3 separate regions of the Homo sapiens genome follow, and all the other regions are linked to region 3. Evidence: fine-mapped expression QTL. A gene starts in region 3. Each other region holds a variant in brackets. All regions are shown on one strand. Distances are between the middles of the regions.

Evidence for each region. PIP is the estimated chance that this variant, and not a neighbour inherited with it, causes the effect. A credible set is the group of variants that fine-mapping cannot tell apart.
Region 1: its variant is the best candidate, but not a certain one, in a credible set for the expression of HSBP1 in whole blood (TOPMed, PIP 0.83).
Region 2: its variant is the best candidate, but not a certain one, in a credible set for the expression of HSBP1 in whole blood (TOPMed, PIP 0.51).

What each region holds. Positions count from the first base shown.
Region 1 is chr16:83,768,965-83,774,150 of GRCh38, reverse strand. All of the region lies in intron 11 of CDH13 (cadherin 13), which reads right to left. It overlaps CEDORA (CDH13 antisense oligodendrocyte and neuron associated lncRNA), which reads left to right and starts at 1,202. Exons shown (of 4, transcript NR_188499.1): 1 at 1,202-1,342. RefSeq lists an enhancer at 4,539-4,678. The variant G/A (reference allele first, on the strand shown) is at 2,691.
Region 2 is chr16:83,844,304-83,849,487 of GRCh38, reverse strand. No RefSeq gene overlaps it. Among named protein-coding and RNA genes, the nearest start is that of HSBP1, 39 kb to the right of the region's middle. RefSeq lists enhancers at 2,195-2,694, 2,695-3,196. The variant C/T (reference allele first, on the strand shown) is at 2,062.
Region 3 is chr16:83,804,669-83,809,878 of GRCh38, reverse strand. HSBP1 (heat shock factor binding protein 1) reads right to left here and starts at 1,901. Exons shown (of 4, transcript NM_001537.4): 1 at 1,758-1,901; 2 at 1,133-1,199; 3 at 454-574. The coding sequence starts at 1,802. The coding sequence ends at 456. RefSeq lists silencers at 1,465-1,754, 1,772-1,948 and an enhancer at 1,606-2,107.

The DNA.
Region 1 (5,186 bases), 36 kb after region 3:
CACAGTAAAATAGCATTTACTATTTCTGTAGGACGAATAGCTCAGTAGCCGAAAATGATTATAGAGTTGAGTAGATCTTTTTCAGAGATAACAGCAGGGGGCTGGGCTCCACATGGGGACAGTCTGTGCTGATGGAGGTTTGTGAAGCAGAAATGAGACCCCAGAGCTGAGGCCTCGTCTTCCAGCTACAAGACCATGCCAGGCAGGGAAGGGGGAGGGATAAGGATGGAGAGAAAGGAGGAAGCTTGGGAGCAGGACCTTATTATAGAAATGGGCCTCTGTGGGGTAGTGGTTTAGAGCCTCATGACTGGGGAACAGTGTTGGAGCCTGTGGCTCAGCCACCAGGAGAATCACCATATACTAATGCTCACCCTGGGTTTGAGGCAAGGCTAGAAGAACTTCCTTACCTCCTAAGGATAGATAGGCTTGACCAAGAGGGCCATAACCTTCCCCTGTGCTGGACTACACTTTAGATGGGCTTCTTTCAGACTCTAGAGCCCTGATATGGTTTGGCTTTGTGTCTCCACCCAAATCTCATCTCCAATTGTAATCCCCACATATTGAGGGAGGGAGATGATTGGATCATGGGGGTGGTTTCCCCCATGCTGTTCTCTTGATAGTGAGTGAGTTCTCATGAGATCGGATGGTTTTATAAGTGTCTGGCATTTAACCTGCTAGCACTTCTCTCTCCTGACACCATGTGAAGAAGGTCCTTGCTTCCCATTTGCCTTCCACCATGATTGTAAGTTTCCTGAGGCCTCCCCAGCCATGTGGAACTATGAGCCAATTAAACCTCTTTCCTTTATAAATTACCCAGTATCGAGTAGTAGCTATACAGTAGTATGAGAATGGACTAATATAGGCCTTGACTTCTCTTTTCTTGAAGCATTTACTTTAGAAACTTGCAATTGTAAATTCTTTCTCTGTCCCTGTGAGATGTAAATCTTCCAACCTGTTGCTAGTTTTGCAACCCAGGACCACTTTTCTCAAGGACCTGACATCTCTTTGAAATGTAATCATGGAAAGGAATAGTGTCTCTGTCTCTCAGTCTCTGTGGAAGGGTTGGAGCCTAACTCCAGTAAACACCCATTAGCAAACACAGATGCCTAATCACATGGACCAACCTCCCCACAAACATCTTCCAGTACTTTTCCATTAGCTCATCCCAGCTCTTAAAAATCGTCCCATTGTTTGTTTCAGCAGAGTTAGTTCAATCTCTCTCCCTTATTGTAGCCTTGAATAAAGGCTTTGCCTTTCAAACTCTGTCCTGCCCATTTTTCTTTGACATGTTCAGATGTTGGCAAGGCTGAAAACTGCAGGGGATCTGGTTGTGATAATCCAGGTAAGCCACAGGGAAAGCACAGGTAAGGCAGAAGCAGGGAAGTGAGGTGAGGGGTGGTGTATCCATGAAAGGAGGGTTCCAAAAATGAATGATAAGAATGGTCATGTCACACCAGGAGTGTGGTACTGTGTGCACCCGTTGGCAAGCGACTTAATGAGATTGCTTTAAACATGGCTTGATTTTAATTTGTAGAACAAAATTGAATCCATGATTGATCCACAAGGCCCTGTGAAGTGTTTTGTAAAAATATACACTAAGTCTTTATGGTCAGAGTTTCTTTGATGCCGGGAGTTTCTGCTGACCTATATTCAGTGTTATAAGTAATTGGATTTTTCTTTTTAACCAGCAGTTGCAGACTGGCATTTGGTCTGCTAATTTATCGTGTTTCTGGGATGTCCAGTGTTCTAAGAATTCTTATTTTTTATCCAAATGGCTTCAAGTGGAGCACATATTTCCAAGATGACCACTGGTCCTTTCCAGCCTACTGCCTCTGCCCTGGCTTCTAGCAGCATAAGACTTGGGCCTTCCTCATATGTTCCCTCCTAGCTAACCTGACTTTAGCCAGTATAGATTTTTCTTCATTTCTCCATTCCTGAAGTATGGCTCCCTCCTTTCTCTTAAGCATGTCTTTCAGTCTTATACTACTTCTTTTCTTAATATTGAGTCTATTTGTATACATGGATAGTTTAATAGGCATCTCATTTAAGGTTCTCAAATAAGTATACAAGCTAAAAAGTCACCCCCCATCCTTCTCCACCCACAGAGTGTACATTGTGTTGGGTGATATCATGGGGAAAATACCAGGAGCAAACCTTAGCTGCAGGAATCTCTTTTCTCTTGTGTCATTGACTTCTTATTAGAAAGACATGTGTTTTGGTTACAAGGTTGGCAATTCCATCATGCAGCAGTGTGAATGGGATGTAAGGAGATATTTTTAATTTTACCTCCTAATACAACCATATCAAATCCCATTTCCAAATGAGGAAATGAGGACTTGTAGGCACAGATATCTGGAAACAAAGCCTATTTAAAATTGCTTAGTAGGAATGACAGTTTTCCTTCCGACCCATTTTCAGTGACAGCCTGTCACTCTTGACTGAGAGATCTCCAACCTACAAATGTTGGTGGGTTATTTATTTTGCAAGCAGCCCTCCTGCTGCCATACAATGGCAAGTCTTGAGGGGGAAAGGGTTATCATTTTCTTTCCTTTGGATCTGAGTTACTGGCTCTGTTGCTCTAGAGGACTATGCCTTTTAGACCATGGCGGTGCTTTTGCTTCATGGACTTGGCACCCTGCCACGGTCTTCCTGGCATTCAACCTCTGCTTGCCCTTGTTTCTGGCTTTGTC[G/A]TTCCCACTCAGCACTGACAACTTGTAAGAGCCTCAGCACATTATATGACCACGATAGGACCACATGGATTCCACTGCTGGATTTCAAACTCCAATAATTAACCTTGTATTTCTTCAAGTTGAGCAGTGATAACTGCCTATGAGATGGCCAAGTTGGCCACCTGGCCTGCCTGGGTTACTCTTGGTCTGGTTGGCTCATGACTTACACTTAGCCTTTTGTGATCTTGGTGTAGGGAGGGCAGAACTGTGCGTTTTCTAAGAGAAGCAGGGTAATATGATTAATAAAAGGTGAAGATTTACGTAGAGGAATCGAGCACCTGTTATCATACAGTCTAGGAAAAGTCCAAGCAAACCAGGCAGGCTGTTGCTTTGAGCACATGGGGGTCTACATTCTAGTTTTTTCTCATTTTCTAGAAAAGAAAACTAGACACTCAGATTAAGGAAAATGTCCAAGGTGCTCTAACATTAGTGTGTCAGAGGCATTGAAATCAGAGCAACTCCATCTTGAATAGGTGCTGGGTAAAATGAGGCAGAGATCTACTGGGCTGCCTTCCCAGGTGGTTAAGGCATTCTAAGTCACAGGATGAGATAGGAGGTCAGCATAAGATACAGGACATAAAGACCTTTCTGATAAAACAGGTTGCAGTACAGAAGCTGGCCAAAACCCACCAAAATCAACATGGTGACAAGGGTGACCTCTCGTGGTCCTCACTACTGCACTCCCACCAGCACCATGACAGTTTACAAATGCCATGGCAACATCAGGAGGTTACTCTCTATGATCTAAAAAGGGGAGGCATGAATAATCCACCCCTTGTTTAGCATATCATCAATAAATAACCTCAAAAATGGGCAACCAGCAGCCTTTGGGGCTGCTCTGTCTACGGGGAGTAGCCATTCTTTTATTCCTTTACATTCCTAATATACTTGCTTTCACTTAATGGACTCGCACTGAATTCTTTCTTGCGTGAGATCTAAGAACTCTCTCTTGGAGTCTGGATCGGGACCTCTTTCCAGTCACAAGCATGTCACCTGTTTAAGAGCTGTGGCCCCCTGGCAGGGCATCCCCATCCCTGGAGCTTTCTGGCTATTCTATAAAGTGAATGGAATGCCTGGCAATTGTAAAGCACTTCCCCGTCCATAAGAGCCAGAGCCACAGAGCTCGAAGTTTGAGTATTTTGGTGCTTGTGGTTGGTACTAAACACTGGTAGAAAGGGTAAAAAACAGTTTCCTGTGCTTTTCTTACCTACATGGCCAACAGTATATTGCTTTGTGTGGGAAGCCTGTAGAACTGAACCAGGACTCCTCCAAGAAACATGAGCCACGCGTGGTTCTCCTGGCATTGCTTTGACGCTGTGGGTGTGGATGCAATGAGAAACAGGGTCAGGTTTTGAAACCATCCCCACAGGGTTGACGGGAATTGCATGCCAGGTTCTGGGTACAAATACAGTTATAATTCAGCGTTAATCAGGCTGCACCCTGGCCCAGTTCCTTGTTGCAGTAGGTCATGTACCGTAACCAAGTACCCTGATTTTTCTGAGGTGGTTTAATTACTTTTTTCTCTTCTCTTCTCCTTTCCCCTTTCAGCCTGCTTCCTACCTAGCCCTTTTTGAAATGCAAAATAACCTCTCACCTCCCCCTCACCACACATTCCCTACAAGGCAAGGTCATCTACGTGCCCCAGTGATCTCTTCTCCAGAATTGACAGTCAATTTGCAGATCAAAGCACATCTCCACGGAACTCCCACTTCTGGGGTGGCCTCAGGAGGACATGGTGAAAACACGCCCACTTGGCCACTTTTACAACTTATTTCTGCCCAGGAAGGCACCAACTCAACTGTATGCCAACTCAGCTGTTTGGTAGATAAGACACCAGGCTAGCAGGGGGACTTCCTGCCCTTGCTCACTTCCCCTTTAACCTTATAAACATGTCTGCTTTTTGCTCCAAAGATGAAGCAGCACACTTAAAGCAGGACACTTTGTGTCTTTCCAAGCTAGCTTCAAAAATAAATTCACTTTTCTTGTACCAGGCCTGGATCTTGTTAATTGGACTCTGCTGCAGTGAGTGGCTAACCAGTTCCTCAGTTACAGTAGCACTAGATCCTGACATTTGCTTCCCCACCGTTCCCCTAGATAGGATCTCTGACATTAAGGCCAGAAGACTGTTTAAGAATTGATTTGCATCCCCATTGTTCCTATAGACACTTAAGATGTTTTTCAGACACACCTCCCCAGAATTCCAGCCACCAGTTGGAAGTCTCCCACAGGGGAACAGGATCAGCATGAGAACACAGCTGCTTCCTCTCCCCTTCCTATGACTTCACCCTGTACTCTTGATCTCCACACTTCTGCCCACTCCAAAGCCCTCAAAAACCCAAGCCTCAACTTCCTTGGGGAAATGGCTTTGAGGTTCCCTCCCATCTTCTCGTTCTGTGACCCTGTGGTCAAGGTGTTTGAACCAGAGCAACTCCATCTTGAATAGGAGCTGGGTAAAAT
Region 2 (5,184 bases), 40 kb before region 3:
CAAATACAAAAATATTACAATTAATGGAAAAATATTTGTACCATATATAGCAGTTTAATGGCCATATTCTTAAGACCCCCCAAAAAATTACAAAGCAGCAAAAACAAAATTAACCCCACTTTTAAAAAATGGGCAAAACACTTGAGCTAGCAGTTTACAAAGAACCATAAATGGCCCATAAATAGTCACTCGTTCCAGTAGGAACTAAAGAAATGCAAACGAAGTCAACAAAGAGATCAGTTTTTAGGTCTCATTTGAAAGGATGGCGTTGGTCCCCAATGTTGGTGAGACTGCAGGGAAACAAGCCTTATCCCAACCTGCTGGTGGGATTTCAAATGTGTATCTTCCTAGGGGGTCAGATTTGGCAGTCTCTATCAGGGCTTTCCAATCATTTAGTCTCTACAAATGTACCTTTAGGAAATAATTCTAGATGTGTTCAAAGAGCTTCACGAATGTTCACTGTCTGCTACTTATAATAGTGAACAATTGAGTTCAACCTAAAGGTCCAATAAAAGGGGATCACTTAAATAAATGGTGACCCTTCCACACAATGAAACACTTTGTACATTTACACAATGATAGAAAAATGTTTACTAATTAAGAGAGTGTTCACAATTTATATTGTTCAGTAAAAAGGGAGATTAAATACAAAACCGTATGTATAGTATAATTCATTTTGGTAAGAAACAAGAAATTTCTTACCAAAGAAGAAATACTTAAATAGAATGTCCATAAACCTTAACAGTGGTTATCTTTTCTTTGAAATAGGGTCTACATTACCCATTTTTGGCTGGTTTTGAACTCCTGGGCTCAAGTTAGCCTTCTGCCTCAGCCTCCCAAAATGCTGGGATTACTGGCGTGAGCCACTGGGCCTGGCCTTTAACAAACTTTTTTTTTTTTTTAAAGGGGTAATAAAGGTTGTTTTTCCACTTTCTTTGGAAACTTCCAGTCTTTTTCAAAATTAGGAAAGGATCTGGTTGTACAGTGGATAGTGTAAATTCTACCAGGGAGGTACACCAGATTACTAAGTGAGAGGCTGACACATAAGCCTAGAACGGTCTCCTTGCACATCTCACTGAGGGTTGTGGCCTATGTTCTAAGTCCAACAAAAAGGAAACTCATCTGCTCAGCAGAGTATTCATTGCATGATAAATTGAATGTAGCCACTGAAAATATTCATGCAAATATCTTCATTAGTAAAATCATGCAATTAACCTGAAATATGTGCTAAATGAAGCAGCCAAATTGTTGCATATTTTCCCAGCTCTTAATTATAATTTTGGTAATCAATTTTTCTCCTGATTACCAAAAAGAAAAAAAAAAAAGACCCTTCAACGTATGCATGATCCGAGGATGAGCTGGAACGTGAGATAAAACCCTGAATCGTTATAGCAAAGGAGGCCATTAACCTTTCCTGTGTTTTTGTTCATTGCAAGCATTTCCTGCTAATGCTCATTGCGGAAGAAGATTGGATTTTAACAAGAGCTTTTTGGATCAAGCATCAGCCCTTCCTGAACTCTACGTTTTGCAAGCGCCACCGTCATTAAAGGTTACCAGCACTTCCATTATCATCTTCCCAGCGTTTATTTCTTAAATGGCTTTTGACTACAGTGTAAAAATTTTCCTTAAGTGAAAACTGGCATCCAATCTCTCGCAAGCCCAGACATGCAGATGGCCAAAAATGCCACAGGGCCACATTAAAAAAAAAAAAAAAAAGCAGGGTGGAGGACAATGAGTCCTAATAGACAGATCCCCTGTGCTCTCTGAATTCTTGTTTTCCCATTTACTGAGCAGTTAGTGGATTTGGAGGTGGGAAGAGCCTCACCCTATAGCATTTCACAAGGTACATTAGGAGGAGCTGCTGAGCCATGGGGTAGCTCAATTTCTACATCTGTAAAACGAAATGAAGCACGTGAGGATTGAGATGAGTAAAGTCTCTAGCATATGTAAAAGACAAAATATATTTGCCAATATTTAAGTTGCGACATTTTAACTTCCCCTTTTTAACAGGTCCTCCATGAAGCAGTCTACCTCCTCAGGCTAAACCGGGAAGGTGTCACC[C/T]TTGGGACAGAGTGGGTACTTGATCTCTCTAGTAAGATGTTGTTTTTCACCACTTGACCTTAGAGATCCTCCCAAGATGCAGAAATGCTTAGTTCTCAGTCATGAGAGTAGAGCTGGGAGGAACACAAACATATTAGACAAAGAAAAGCCAGGAAGGCAGGGCCCGGGCATACAGGTTGCACACTGTGCAAGGATCTCATGTAAGGGGCACCTTTCATTCATGGCAGAGACACTGTAGATTTATAGATTTGTCCTGACAGTTTTCTAGATACAAAATAAATAGAGCAATTTTTCTTCCAGATAGAAGTAAAGTGTCCTGAGGAAGGAGGTGCCTGTTTCTAAATTGCACCAAGATGCTCATAGATTAACTGCAGCCTGGGGAAGCCCTCTGCTCATGGCTCCCAAAGTTTGTGGGGTGAACAGACCTGGAGGGAGCAGAGGGGAAGAGTGGATGTGTGGGTCTTGCTAGGTCTCTTGGAGAAGACCCCTGGTAGGGAGTTGGGAGGGAGCCTGAGGGGGAGGGCTTCTTTTCTGGTTCCTGTTTAGTTCTCTGCTATCCTGACTGCACTGATACGGAATTTAAGAAGAAATTATTGGCTGGGCACGGTGGCTCACACCCATAATCCCAGAATTTTGGGAGGCGGAGGTGGGCGGATCACTTGAGGTCAGGAGTTCGAGACCAGCCCGGTCAACGTAGTGAAACCCTGTCTCTACTAAAAATACAAAAATTAGCCGGGTGTGGTGGCGGGCACATGTAATCCCAGCTATTCGGGAGGCAGAGGCAGGAGAATTGCTTGAACTGGGGAGGTGGAAGTTGCAGTGAGTTGAGATCATGCCACTGCATTCCAGCCTGGGTGACAGAGTGAGATTCCACCAAAAAAAAAAAAAAAAAAAAAAATTATTTAGGCAGATACTAAGGAAGGGTAAGGATGTCCTTAGTAAGGTTTTTCTTTTAATTAAAAGCAGCAGCCCCCAAATCATTTCTTTTCTAACAAACAGCAGCTTATAAAATCGAGCTGCACACATAGAAAGGCAGGCTAGAACCTGGCATGGTGCATGCCGGTAGCTGTGCCAGTAGGAAAGGGGTTACCTGGGTCTACGCATGTCCAACATGGCGGCTCCGTCTTCCCTTCCCTTTGCCAGCCAAGTGTACAGTAAGGAGCAGACAATATGGCACCCACCAAGTGGAAAGCCAATTTGCTTAATAAGATTAGAGTGGGATGGGCAGCTTCCCCAAATGCTGTGTAAACATCACACCTGGTCCAACCAATCTGTGGGCCCTCTGTAAATCAGACACCCCCTCCTCAAGCCTGTCTATAAAATCTGCTGCATTCTGCTGCAGGCCAGAAGTCCCATTCTGGTGCCCTTCTCTTTTGCAAGGGAGAGAGCTGTTCTCCTTTCTCTTTCTTTTGCCTATTAAACCTCCACTCTTTGTTGTTGTTGTTGTTGTTGAGACAGAGTCTCGCTCTGTCGCCCAGGGTGGAGTGCAGCGGTGCCATCTCGGCTCACTGCAACCTCCGCCTCCTGGGTTCAAGTGATTCTTGTGCCTCAGCCTCCCGAGTAGCTGGGATTACAGGTGTGCACCACCACACCTGGCAAATTTTTGTATTTTTAGTAGAGTTGGGGTTTCACCATGTTGGCCAGGCTGGTCTCAAACTCCTGACCTCAAGTGATCCGCCTGCCTCGGCCTCCCAAAGTGCTGGGATTACAGCTGTGAGCTACCATGCCCGGCCTGAACCTCCTTGTGTGTGTCCATGTCCTTAATTTTCTTGGCATGAGGCAAGGATACTCAGGGATTACCCCAGACAAGGACACCGCTTCAGCATCAGGGAGAAGTCAGTAATGGAGTGAGACTAGGAGGGGAGGCCTCGCATATCCAGCAGGCCCCTGGCAGGAAACCGATGGCTCATACCAACTGGGAACTTGACCGTGCGTGGGCAGAGCAAGAGAAGGCTGCAGGGGGCCACAGGGCCTAGGGCCAGCAAAGGCAGGAGCCACTGCTGCTCCCAGGCCTGAGAGTGGCGGGTGGTGCTGGGCAGACAGGCTCCCGATAGGTGCTGGGCCCTGGGGAGAGGACCCAACAGTGGGGGAATCAGAAAATGAGGACAGAACCGAAGGCCCTGTTCTCCCTCCTTTTTGCCTTCAGCTGGTGCTGACCATTGGCCAAACTCAACTGGAAGCCACAGGCAGAAGTGTCTGGGCACCGGGCTCGGGGACAGGGGAGGACACTTCTCTGAAGGAGGCAGGGATTACTCGGCGTACCTGATCCTGGCTTCACTGGTCTCCTCTTGGTTCCCAGGTAGAAAGGGTCAAGGTGACCCTTAGGCAGAGGCTGGGTATAGGCTGGTCTGGGACAGGGAAGCAAATGGAGGACGTGGTGGAGACTCACAAGAGACTTCAGTTTGGAGAGGGCTGAGGTGAGACTGAGGCAGCCATGGGGTCTCTTGGGTCCCAAACAAACCCATCTCGGGAGCTTACCCCAGCCCCCAGTTCACACGATGGAGGCCCACGGGGCTCTCGGCACCGCATCATGGTCACCGCCTGGACCTGAGAAGTGCTTCCCTCTGCTGTCAGGGGTACCATGGGGGCCCCTGGTCTCCCAAACACCCAGACCGCATCTCAGGGAGGGGTGGGCAAGCAGAGACGGAACTGAGAGAGGCTGAGCACGGCCAGCGGCCAGCTGTGTGTGACCTGATTCAGCAGCTGGGACAAAAGGCAGTTTGTTCCATGATCCCTGAGACGGGGCCTTGGGAGAGACCAGATGAATTCTACAGAATATGAGGAAGTGGGTGGTCAGGTACAGAAATCTGAATCCCACTATATATCTATGTCTTAAATATATGTATTTTTTGATCCCATTTGTGTGTGTATGCGCGTGCACTCACACACGAGAGTGAAAGGGAGAGAGAGAGAGACAGACAATTAAGGCAATCCCTTCTCTAGTATTCAATCCCAGAAACTTAGATGATTATGGTACCCTATTAAAATGGAGTATCCTAGAACCATGAAAAATCCCATTTCTCAAAAATATTACAGACCAATAGCACTTGTAATGATAGATGCAGAAGTCCTTCATAAAATTTTACCAACCAGCATAAAACAACTCATTAAAGAAAAGTCACC
Region 3 (5,210 bases):
ACAGTGATGCTTGCTGGGATCATGGCTGGGAACTGATCTACAGAATGTCTGACTACATACAAATTATACTTACAGGTTCTCTCTATTCTTTTAAGACAAAATAAAAAAAAAGACCGGGCACGGCGGCTCACACCTGTAATCCCAGCACTTTGAGAGGCTGAGGCGGGCAAATCACTCAAGGTCAGAATTCGAGACCAGCATGACCAACATGGAGAAACCCCGTCTCTACTAAAAATACAAAATTGGCTGGGTGTGGTGGCACAAGCCTGTAATCCCAGCTACTCGGGAGGCTGAGGCAGGACAATCGTTTGAACCCAGGAGGGCAAAGGTTGCAGGGAGCCGAGATCGTGCCATTGCACTCCAGCCTGGGCAACAAGAGCAAAACTCCGTGTCAAAAAAAAAAAAAAAAAAAAAAAGAAAAGAAAAGAAAAAAAAAATTGCCCCCTTCCTCACCTTCAACTCTTTTGCGTGGCAGGTATCTTGTTTTCACTTTCCAGTTCTTCCACCCCAGCCTGTGTCATGAGGTCCGCGATATTCTTTTCCAGATCATCAATGCGACTACTCATATCATCAAGTGCTGAAGTTAAAGACAACGCGTGCCAACATCTCATTGAGCCTTTTTCCTCCCGTCCCTGCAGACTACAGCCTTAAACACAACGACTTTAGGGAAACTGGTCTTCCAATTTTCTTTCGACACTGTTACACGCTGGTGGGTAAGAGTACAGGACTGTGGGGCATGGCTACCCCGCATCGGATTCCAGCCCTGACCCTTACTAGTGATGGAACCCCTAAACCTCAATTTATTCATTTGCTAAAGATGATAACACTACAACCCACTCATAAGGTCATGCTGAGCATCAAAAGACACACACAAAAGCGCTTAGTTCACAGTGCATGGTCCACCACACCAGCTATTAGGATTGGTAGACGTATGCTCCTTGAGCCAGGAGTCTAACTCAGCTTTGCCCCTAGCTCTCGGCGCAGTCCTTCTCAGAAACACAGTACAATCCAAGCTCAAATTCTACAAGTGAATGGCTGAAGCTAGCCTGAAAACTACTCATTTATCCCCACCACTGCCCGGCAAATAGGCTCCAAAGGCCCACAGGAGGCCGACTGCAGATAAAAAGGATATTTCTCCCAATGATCTGGTCAGACATGGTCTGAAATTTATCTTGCATCTGCTGCAGGAGTGTCTGCACCTAAGAAAAACCGAAACAAACAAACACGGTCCACATCGATCCTGAGACAACTTCCTGGGATCAGGACGCAAGCCCTGGTCCCGGGGTTCCAGCCCCATTTCTGCCTCTGGACAGCTGTGCGGCCTTCAGCAAGATCTTCCTTCTCTGGGCTTCCGTTTTCCAACCTGTCCAATTAGACTGCTGGGCTGGGGAGGCCGCTGCGACTCAAAGCTCAGGGTCTTTAGGTTGTTTCTGCCGGGCTGGGGCACCCGGGGGTGTGTGAGGAGTTGAAGGGCGGGGAGGGTGTCAGAGGTAGGCGGGAGGGACCCGGAGGGCGTTCGCGACAGATGAATGGGGCTACTGGAAGGGGTCGGGCTTGGGGGCGCCCGCGGGGAGACTGGCCCGCACCGAGCGCCCCGGGGGTCAAGGTGGCCGGGAGCCTCGGCCAGAGACGCTTCCAGAAACGGGGCCTCGGCAGACGCCACGCGCGGCCGCGGTGGGCGCGCCTCTGTCCAGCAGGGCTTGGCCCGGCGCCGCCCGGGAAGGCCGCGGCCTCCGGCCCTCACAGCCGTCCCTTACCACCGAGGTGAGGTCCTGCACGGTCTTGGGGTCAGTCTCGGCCATCTCCCCGATGCCCAGCTTGGCGGTGATGTCTCAGACCGTAACCTACACTTCCGTTTGTCCGCTCAGTCGCCCCGGGCCGCTGCTTCTCGCGACGAGACTGGCAGCTCGCGGGACCGCGGGGCATTATGGGAGTAGTAGTTTCTCCCGCACCGGAAGGGCCTCGAGGCCGCGCGCTTCCGTTCCAAGGAGCGGCCCCACCCCACTCTCCCCGCCTTCTTTCGCATAGCCCCTCCCCTCCCTCTATGCCCCGCCCCTCACGCAGCGCGCCGTCAGTGGGGTGGAAAGTGAGACCAACTCAGAAATGGAGCAATAGAGGCAGGGAGTGGTCTTGGCCTCTCTTCCAGGCTGTAGTCAGTCGAAAGACGGCTCTGGGGTTTCTTTGGCCTGTCGGGACGAACTTACAGAACTTTTGCCCTTCAACAAGCCCCACTGTACCCTTGTAACTGCCCCCAAGCCAAGGAACATGACCCACCCCTACCCGCCCCGGGAGCCCCATGGCTCCTGTCCTGTTCTGTCATCTCCACCCTATGAAGGTGGCCAGCGTCTGGAGTTTAGCCCAGTAGGTTCATTGTGCCCGTCAGGTTCATATGAGGGGATTCAGACAGGAAGCTGTCCATCATGCCTGGCTTCTTTCACTCCACGCAATGCCTGCTGTTGAGTGGGGAAGGCTTCCGGCATCAGGGTTAGACTGTGGGTTTGGGTGTTGAAGGAGGTGGGCACTGCTGATTTGGAACCTCAAGTTCCAACCCCACAGGTGGTCTTTAGGATTGGGTCTCATGGCAAGGGGATAGGAGAGTCCTTGACTGCGGGCCTGGCATGTTCTGGAAACTTTCACACATCTCATTTAAGGACTGTGCTATGTGAGGGGTCAGCTCCAGTTTGACTTTAGCTAGGGAGAGGCTGTAAGGTGTTAGAGCTGTTACGGGAAAGGGTCCTGATCCAGACCCCAAGAGAGGGGGTTCTTGGATCTCATGCAAGAAAGAATTCAGGGCGAGTCTGTAAAGTGAAAGCAAGTTTAAGAAAATGAAGGAATAAAAGAATGGTTACTCCATAGACAGAGCCCTGAGGGCTGCTGGTTGCTCATTTTTATAGTTATTTCTTGATTATATGCTAAACCAGGGGTGGGTGATTCATGCCTCCCCTTTTTAGACTATATAGCGTAACTTCTTGACGTTGCCATGGCATTTGTAAACTGTCATAGCGGTAATGGGAGTGTAGCAATGAAGACAAGCAGGGTTCACTCTTATTGCCATCTTGGTTTTGGTGGGTTTTGGCCGGCTTCTTTACCGCAAGCTGTTTTATCAGCAAGGTCTTTATGACCTGTACCTTGTGCTGACCTCCTATCCCATCCTGTGACTTAGAATCCTTTAACTGTCTGGGAATGCAGCCCAGTAGTTCTCAGCCTCAGTTTACCCAGCTCCTATTCGAGATGGAGTTGCTCTTGTTCAAACGCCTCTGCCAGACCCACCAGTGTCTCTAACAAACCCGGAATCCAGTTGGCCTTGAGGCATGAGACTTCAACTCCCTTTACCACCCCTTCCCCCTCACTCACACCTTTGCCCCTCACCCTTCACACCTCATCCTTTCCTATAGAGAGATCTTCCTTTCTGTGTAAGTATACACAACTTTTTTGTAATTGGCTGTTGTCAACTGGTATTTGGCTAGTGCTTTACCCGACTACTTGAAATAAAAATATCTCAGTGTTTTAAGTTAATCCTCAGAAGACCCTGTGATATAATTATCATAATTTTACATTTTTGAGAAAACAGATGCAGAGGCGTTAAGAAACTGGAACAAGGTCATCAAATTAAGGAAGTAAGAGACGCAGGACTTCCTGACTCTGCATCTTCTCCTTTTTTCTCACCATTCTAGAATTCTCTGAGTTTTTTGAGCTTAGAGCAGAGTTTCTCAAGAGCTGCAATACTGGCATTTGAGTCAAGTCGTTCTTTATTGTTGGTGGTGGAGGGGGCACCCTGTATATTGTAGGACGTTGGGCAGCATCTCTGACTTCTACCTACTAGATGCCAGTATCTCAGTTTTCTTAAAAGACTTTTTTTTTTTTTTTTTTTTTTTTGAGATGGAGTCTTGCTGTGTTGCCTAGGCTGGAGTGCAGTGGCACCATGTCGACTCACTGCAACCTCCGCCTCCCCGGTTCAAGCGATTCTCCTGCCTCAGCCTCCTGAGTAGCTGGGATTACAGGTGAGCACCACCATGCCCAGCTAATCGTAAAAGACTTTTCATAAAACTTCAGAACTCCTTAAAAACTAGTGAATAGCCAAGGTGAAGAAAGCCCTCAGGCTTCTGACTTTAGACCCCAATCCCTGGGACTCCCACACTCAGCAAAGAAAGCTGGGTGCCTGCACCCTGGATCTCTGAGCAAACCTGTCTTATGGCTGTGGGCAACTCAGGAACATGAATTAGCACGAGAATCTGGAGTTTTTCTTTCCTTTTCTGGTAAGACACTTGTGGTTTTTTTTTTTCAAATTCCAATTGGAAATTTGCTTTACATGAACAACAAACAAACTTGATACTCTTTTAGTGGAGGCATTATTTGTTCCTTTATTTTTTGCACTTAAACAGACAGGCAGTATGCTTTCTCTGTGTGGAGACCAAGGTCTGTTAAAGGGCTGCTTTTCACGGAAGCTTCACTAATTTATACTCATGGCTGACATACTCACCTTGTGGGGCTGACACACCGAACCTAACTGAATATTGTCCCATTAACAAAACTAATGTATTACGTGTAAGGCACCAGTAATTAACCTTTAAACTTCGGTTTTGAACAACTCTCATTTTTAACCTTTATTTAAGTGTCATAGTTGTCTTACCTCCTCTTGGCATTTTTTTTTTAAAGCTCTTCCTAGATTAATTGCATGTTGTAACTCCCTTTTTCCATTCAAGACAGTTTTGTTTTACGTGCGCTTATTATGGTACTTTTATAATTGCTTTTTGGTTCTCTGGGCCATTCTTTTGACATGCCTCCTTTCTTGGATCTGTACTATGATAGGTGGCTGGGCATGGTGGCTCATGCCTGTAATCCCAGCACTTTGGGAGGCTGAGGCAGGCAGATCACTTGAGACCAGGAGTTCAAGACCAGCCTCGCCAGTGTGGCGAAACCCCATCTCTACTAAAAATACAAAAATTAGCTGGGCTAGGTGGCGTGCACCTGTAATCCCAACTATTCAGGAGGCTGAGCCAGGAGAATCGCTTGACCTGGGGAGGCAGAGGTTGCAGTGAGCCGAGATCTATCCCCTGCACTCCATCCTGGGCAACAGATTGTGACTCTGTCTCAAAAAACAGTAATAATAAAATACACTATGGAAGGTGTTGGTCTGTCCATGTGACCACATGCAATGAGGTGCTTTGTGCGTTTGCCTTGTGTGAGCAGCGATGGAATGATCCTAGCGG